2 linked regions of the Homo sapiens genome follow. The protein of the gene in region 1 purifies or fractionates together with the protein of each later gene. This does not show direct contact. Each region holds a gene or a part of one and is shown on either strand. Other genes may lie near its edges.

Region 1 (3,523 bases):
GCCACCACACCCAGCTAATTTTTGTATTTTTGGTAGAGACAGGGTTTCTCCATGTTGGCCAGGCTGGTCTCAAACTCCTGACCTCAGGTGATCTGCCCACCTCTACCTCCCAAAGTGCTGGGATTGTAGGGGTGAGCCATCGCACCCGGCCAGAATAGGATTTCTTAGCTCCAATGGAATCTGTCATCTTTGAAGGATGACATCTTTAGATTACAGCCTCCTCTCTCACCGAGGTTCTGAATAAGAAATGACCACATCATAAATAGCTCTGAACTTCTGCCACACCTTTGCTGAAGATGTGGATCATCATGGGACAGTACACAGCAGGTGGGTAAGAGCATATGCCTCGCAGCCATCGGCCTGTGTTCAAATCCCCGCTTTGCCATCAATTCACTGCCTGATATTGAGCAAGCGGGCTGCTTTGAGCCTTGGTCGAATCTGGCACGCAATTGAGAATAACATATGTATTTTATATTGTTGTAGTCTTCACTTATAGAAGGACTTGCAAGCTAAACTTCTTTTATAATTTAGTGTGGGGTGAGGAGGAAGGATCAGCCTTCTCTCTTCATCAGTGAGATTTCGATGGATCAGCATTTCCCAAAGCATGTGCTGTGACATACAGGGCTCGGAGAGATGTCGTGCAAACAGAGGCTCTGGTATTTGGAATGAGTTTGGGCAGTGCTGGATTAAGCAGGGGTAAACAGCATCTTTGCTGCAAGACTTTTCATAACCTTTATTAAGCTAAGATGCCTTGCGAAGCTCCATGAGTCGGTGATATTGACAGCATTTTCCCAAATTCATTTGACCAACGAACCATTTTTTCCACGAGGCATACCATGGGACACGTTTTGAAAAGAATTGTCGTTACATCCCTCTTTCTCTCTTGGCCCCCGGAAACTTCTATTTCCATCTGATGCTCACCCCGAGTAACCAAATCAGCGGGGATCTGGGTATATTTATACCCCACCTCCACTCTGCTGTGCTGGTTTTCTATTTTTGTTTTGCTGTACATATATCTTTTAGTGCAGGATGCCTCAGATGCTGTGTGGAAATGAGGGGGGTGGGGATGGCATCATCTGGAGAGAAGGAGCCCACGCTAGAACCTCAGGCAATTCTGAGATCTTAGGAGATGTGAGCAGGGACATGGGTGCAGTTCACCACTGCTCTGCCCAGCTGTCACAATGCTGATCACCCCTAGGGAGATGGGGATAAATGCAGCCCCTTAGGGGACTTCTCCCAGGTCTGTTTGTAAAGTCTGTCCCAGGCGATAAAGAAAGGAGGGCAAGTGTCATCACATTTATGTCCTGCAAGCACTGCTTAAGAAAATAAGAGTCACCTTGAACTGGTCATTGCCAACCTCAAAAACAAGCTAATTTCTGCTATTGTTGCATTTAGCTGTTTTAAGAAAGACAGAGGCAGGTGGGACAGGGCAGTAAGCCTCAGATTTTGATGTGGTGGCCTTAGGAGTGGGTGAGTCAATGGCAACTAAGCCCCCTGAGGGCTGCAGGCCAACAAGGAGCTGCCAGGAGTGCTGTCACAGGAGGGCTGGCTGTGTCCTGCCTCTGGGGGCAGGGAGTGCAGGTGCCATCATTTCTTCCTTTGAACTCTGAACCCCCCATCAAAGCTTCCCTCTCTGTATCTTTCAGTTGACCTATGCGGGTAACGAGGGGCGGTGTGGGCACTGGGAGAAAGTGTCCCTACTCCCACTCTCTTTATTTCTCCAGTATATTTCAATCTGCAGGTATTAAACCATTAGCAGGTAGAGACATCAATTTAGTGGATCGTGACCAGCATTTTATAACATGCAATAGAACAGAACGTATTAGAATCATTGGCTGTAGCAGGGTTGCTAAGAATTATTTTGTGAAAGGTAGGCAGATAGATAGGCATGGAGCTAGATAGGTACAGAGCTGTGTGCTATTACTGTGGATTGTACTCTATGAAGTCCGGGGGTCGCTGTAGCTGACCTGGGGAGCTGGCACCAGATGGATAAGGTGGGTCTGCTCTCACGGTCTGTCGTAGGTTCTGAGGCCCAGTCCCAAGCCTGAGCTGTCCCTCTAGACCCAGAGAAAAATCTACCCCAAAGAAAGGTGCTTGTGATGCACTCTCCTTCAAAGACATATGTTTTAGTCAATCAGGCCACTCAGCCAGGGGGCCCCTACTGCAGGAGAAGGAATCCATTCTCCTGGCTGACTGGGAGGTACCACTGTCAGCTGGGGTGTGTCCAGGCGGACTGTGCAGTCTGTGTGAGGATGGGGAGCACTGGAATAGCAATCCCCAGTCCTAGTTCCTAGCCTAGGTCTGCCACTCACTGCTGTGTGACTCAGGCAGGCGATTTGCTCTCTGTGGGCCTCAGTTACTCATGTACGGGGGGGACAATAGGACCAGGTGATTTCTAAGGTGATCCTTTCTTAGTCTGTTCCAAGGGGACTTAAGAAAATCTGGATCTTCTGGGAAATCCCAAAAGGGAAGCCAGTGTCGCCCACAGGCCAGCGAGCCCATGGCGAGTCAGCTAGGTATGTTATTTTATTTTATTATTATTGTTTTTTTTTAGACAGGGTCTCACTCTGTCGCTCAGGCTGGAGTGCAGTGGCACGATCTCAGCTCACTGCAACCTCCGCCTCCCGGGTTCAAGCGATTCTCGTGCGTCAGCCTCCTGAGTAGCCGAGTAGCTGGGACTACAGACATGCGCCACCACGCTCAGCTAATTTTTGTATTTTTAGTAGAGACGGGGTTTTACCATGTTGGCCAGGCTGGTCTTGAACTTCTGACCTCAGGTGATCTGCCCGCCTAGTGCTGTGACTATAGGTGTGAGCCACGGCACCCAGCAGCTAGATATGTTTGTAGACCCCGGCAGGGGAGGGGGTGGGAGATGGCCCCTCCCTGGCAGCAGCAAGGGCATACGATGACAGAGGCAGCTGGAGCCTGAGCCTGGTCTCCGTGGATAGCATTTATTGGGCGCCATTCTCAGTGTGAAGACAGATAGGCAGGAAGAGCTGAGGGAGGCTGTGGCAGCCACGACCTTTGGAGTCCGGGGGCTGCCCGGGGTGGGGGTGTGGTCGTGAGGGCATGGTCACCCACACATATTGCATATTCTGTGGCAGTGTGCCCAGGCATAAGGCATTGGGGAAGCAGAGAGGCTGCCTGCAGTGAAAGGGAGTGAGGGGGAAGCAACACTGGCCTTCCAGGTCCCTAGGAAAGACCCAGCAGAGACTGAACAGTCTGCCACGCTGTGCCCCACGGCCATTCTGCACCCTTCCCCACCTTCTCTCCGCAGCTTTGGTTGTGGCTCCCTCGGGACTGACAGGACAGGACCCTTCGAGGGCAGGGTCACACACAGGACAGAGGCAGCCAGCACTGCCCCCCCACCCCCAACATAAACACAGAGGGCACCTTCAGGTCCCACGTGCAGCCAGTTCCTCCACACTGAGACGGGACTCACAAGCAGGGTAGACTTCTTCCCCCCAGGGGTCCCCAGAGACTAGAGGACACAGCTGGGGTGGGGCCTGAGGCTGGCCACCCT
Region 2 (3,824 bases), on another chromosome or scaffold:
GATCCTAAATAAAATGTTTTTCAAATTTAGGTCATTCTCAAGCTTTGCCCATCTTGGTTAACCTAAATGCTTGGAAACTGAGCAGTTTATATTTTGATCAGCTAAAGTGTTAACTATTGAGTCATCATAGCCTTTTGGGGTATTATCTTTACCACAAAAAATATTTCTAAAATGGCTGGACGCGGTGGCTCACGCCTGTAATCCCAGCACTTTGGGAGGCAGAGGCGGGCACATCATCTGAGGTCAGGAGTTTGAGACCAGCCTGGCCAACATGGTAAAACCCTGTCTATACTAAAAATAACAAAAATTAGCTGGGTGTGGTGAAGTGCGCCTGTAATCCCAACTACTTGGGAGGCTGAGGCAGGAGAATCACTTGAACCCAGGAGGCAGAGGTTGCAGTGAGCTGAGATCGTGCCACTGCACTCCAGCCTGGGCAACAGAGTGAGACTCTGTCTCAAAAAAAAAAAATGTTTTTCTAAAGTGAATCAGTATTATATTTTTTTATCTTTTCGGTTTGTACTGTATTGACTATTCTTAGCGACAGTGACATACTCATTTTAATTTGAATATAATTTACATTTCGTGGAAAATTATTATACCAATTGAGAATAAAAGGTGATCTGATTCTAGAAAATTATCACCATATTTGTTTAATCCATGAGAATAATAATGGTTATAAAAATAAAACCCCATGGCAGGTAAATGCAGTGCTGATCTTGGATCAGAACAACAGCAACAACAAATTTCTATGAAGGACATTATTGGGACAGATTGAGAAATATGAATATGGTGTGTATATTAGTTAATAGTATTGATCAGTGTTAAATTCTCTGATAATTATAATGTGGTTATATAAGAAATTATCCTTACCCTTGAGAGAGATACACTAAAATTATCAGCAGTAAAGAGCAAATGTGGGCCAGGTGTGGTGGCTCATGCCTAAAATCGCAGCACTTTGGGAGGCTGAGGCAGGTGGATCACCTGAGGTCAGGAGTTCGAGACCACCCTGACAAATATGGTGAAACCCTCCCTGTCTCCATTAAAATACAAAAATTAGCTGGACATGGTGGTGTGCAACTGTAGTCCCAGCTACTCAGGAGGCTGAGACAGGAGAATTGCTTGAACCCAGGAGGCAGAGGTTGCAGTGAGCCAAGATCTTGCCACTGCACTCCAGCCTGGGTGACAGAGCAAGACTCCATCTCAAAAAAAAGAAAAGAGCAAATGTGGGAAGATATTAACTGGTGAATGTAGGTGAAGGATATACAGGAGTTCACTCTTAGAACTTTTTTATCAGTTTCGAATTGTTTTTAAGTGTGCATCTTTTAAATGTTACATTTTCCTATGGAGTCAAATAATATCACATTTAACGAAATTGTTAATAATTTATGAATGTTATCTAATACCAAGTCTATATGTAGATTTTCCCAGTTATCCCAAAAGCCCTTTTTGTTTAGTTTGCCCATTTTGTGACCATGTATCGTATTTGGTGGTTATGCCCTTTCAGTCTCTTAATTTTGGACAGTATCTTTTTTTTATGACACTGATTTGTTGAAGAGACCAGACCAGTAATACTATAAAATGCCCCTCTTTCTGGATGTGTATGGCTACTTTCTTACGTTGTTTAGCTTGTTCTTTGACTTCTGTTACTTTCTATAAACTGTAAGTTGGAGCTTTAGCTTTAGCTTGACAGAGTCAAAGTAAACATTATCAGTTTGAATGTGTCATGTGCTATTATTTCATATTGCAGTGTATCAGGAGACCCAAACTATCTAGTTCTTCCACCACTAGTGGTTTTGTTATTGATTAAAGAATTAAAGTGATGATAGATAAACCCCACCATTCTGCAGTGAAGATTTTTTTCCTGTGACCAGAAAGATTGGTGTTAATTCTTGATTTTTTCTTCTTTTTTAGGATCTGGTTATGGATATCCTAAGAGTATTGAGCACACCAGACTTAGAAGTACGAAAGAAAACTCTGCAGTTAGCACTGGATCTTGTCTCTTCTAGAAATGTTGAAGAGGTAAAAGGAAACTCTGACAGCACTTTGTAGCTATCAGGCCCAAATATGATGTAACTCTCACTTATTTTTACTTCATTCTATAAGCTGGTTATTGTCCTGAAGAAGGAAGTGATAAAAACAAATAATGTGTCTGAGCATGAAGATACTGACAAATACAGACAACTCCTAGTGCGAACATTGCATTCCTGTTCTGTCCGATTTCCAGATATGGCTGCAAATGTTATTCCTGTGGTATGTAATTCTGATGACTTTAATTTTGAAATTATCTAAAAGAATTTTTTAAAAAATATAGTTATTTGACAAACTCCAGAAATCTCAGCTGCCTAGAACCATTAAATCTCATGGTGAGAAGTGATCTTTATATCTACCTCTACCTTTAAACTCAGAAGGGTGAGGACTGACTTCTTTCACTTATATATTCATCAAAAAAACAAAAACAGTGACCAAAAAAAAGCTTTGCATATTATTTTAATTGATGATACAGTTACCTAAAGTAAAATTATGCTGTGTATATATATTATTCAGTAAGGCAAATAGGTATTTATTTTAAATAGCTTTAGCTCTTAAAGGAATCAGTTATAGGAAAAATTCACATATGTAGAATATTTTGCTGTCACTGTCAGATAAGTGAGGTATGTTATTATAATTTGATTTTTGCCTTTGAGCTCTTGAGTTCTCTCTAAAATGATTTTAGTTACAATTTAGGAGGATCGAATTCATTTATTTATTTGGAGTTTTGGATCTCTAGCTTATCTTTTATAGTGAATTTTAAAATAAATTTTGCTGCACATAAAATGGAAAAGCCATTGTGACTTTGTTTACATAATAGTACTTGTCTCTCAATTTACATTTTGTTGTGTATTTGAAAATTATTAAGAATTACAAGGGTCAGGCATGGCACTTCATGTCTGTAATTCGAGCACTTTGGGAGGGCTAGGCAAGAGGATTACTTGAGGCCAGGGATTCAAGACCAGCCAGGGCAATATAGGGAGACCCTGTCTCTACAAAAAAATTAATATTAGCTAGGCATAGTGTCATGCCTGAAGTCCTAGCTCCTGGGGAGGCTGAGGCTGCCAGAGGATCACTTGAGCCCAAGAGTTCAAGGCTGCAGTGAGCTATGATTGTGCCACTATTCTCTAGCCTGGGCAGCAAAGCAAGACCCTGTCTCTTAGAAAACAAAAAAAGAATTACATTCTTTTAATTTATTTCTTGTCCTAGATAATTTTCTTTTCGAAAATTGTTAGTTCCATTTTCTTTTTTTTTTTTTTCTTTTAGTTAATGGAATTTCTCAGTGACAACAACGAAGCAGCAGCTGCTGATGTCTTGGAGTTTGTTCGTGAAGCCATTCAGCGCTTTGATAACCTGAGAATGCTTATTGTTGAGAAGATGCTTGAAGTCTTTCATGCTATTAAATCTGTCAAGTAGGTTTAAAATACATTTAAATGTAAGGTCAAGTAAGCATTTTATCAGTTTTTATCTTTAAAGGGTCAGTTGATAGAAAATAGAATGGAGAGGACAATCAAGCCAAAATAAGACAAGTTTGTACAACAAGCATCTCGCTAACTCCACTCTCATTTAGTCTATAATAAATGGCCCAAAATAATTTTTTTAGGAGTGATTTAGCTCAGGGTCTCTATTCTGATTTTCTCTAAAACATTGTGAATCTTAAAGTAACTAAAGAGCATATTTTTAAATGGCATCACTTTTTGGCTATTACTATTATTTATATCTTCCTTTCACATTTAATGAAGAGAAAGATTGAAAATGCAACCTAAATCTGTCTTTCCCTTCAGAGAGCCTTTGCT

What was found.
Region 2: the proteins of KCNK3 (region 1) and COPB1 purify together in Homo sapiens (affinity purification with western blotting, with the first as the bait; 2 studies listed by BioGRID). This does not show direct contact.

What each region holds. Positions count from the first base shown.
Region 1 is NC_000002.12:26,730,606-26,734,128, reverse strand, and holds the end of KCNK3 (potassium channel subfamily K member 3), read right to left. Parts: 3' UTR 709-3,523; downstream 1-708. UniProt on the Homo sapiens protein: K(+) channel that conducts voltage-dependent outward rectifying currents upon membrane depolarization. Voltage sensing is coupled to K(+) electrochemical gradient in an 'ion flux gating' mode where outward but not inward ion flow opens the gate.
Region 2 is NC_000011.10:14,479,185-14,483,008, reverse strand, and holds part of COPB1 (coatomer subunit beta), read left to right. Parts: intron 1-1,911; coding exon 1,912-2,019; intron 2,020-2,103; coding exon 2,104-2,250; intron 2,251-3,294; coding exon 3,295-3,440; intron 3,441-3,824. UniProt on the Homo sapiens protein: The coatomer is a cytosolic protein complex that binds to dilysine motifs and reversibly associates with Golgi non-clathrin-coated vesicles, which further mediate biosynthetic protein transport from the ER, via the Golgi up to the trans Golgi network.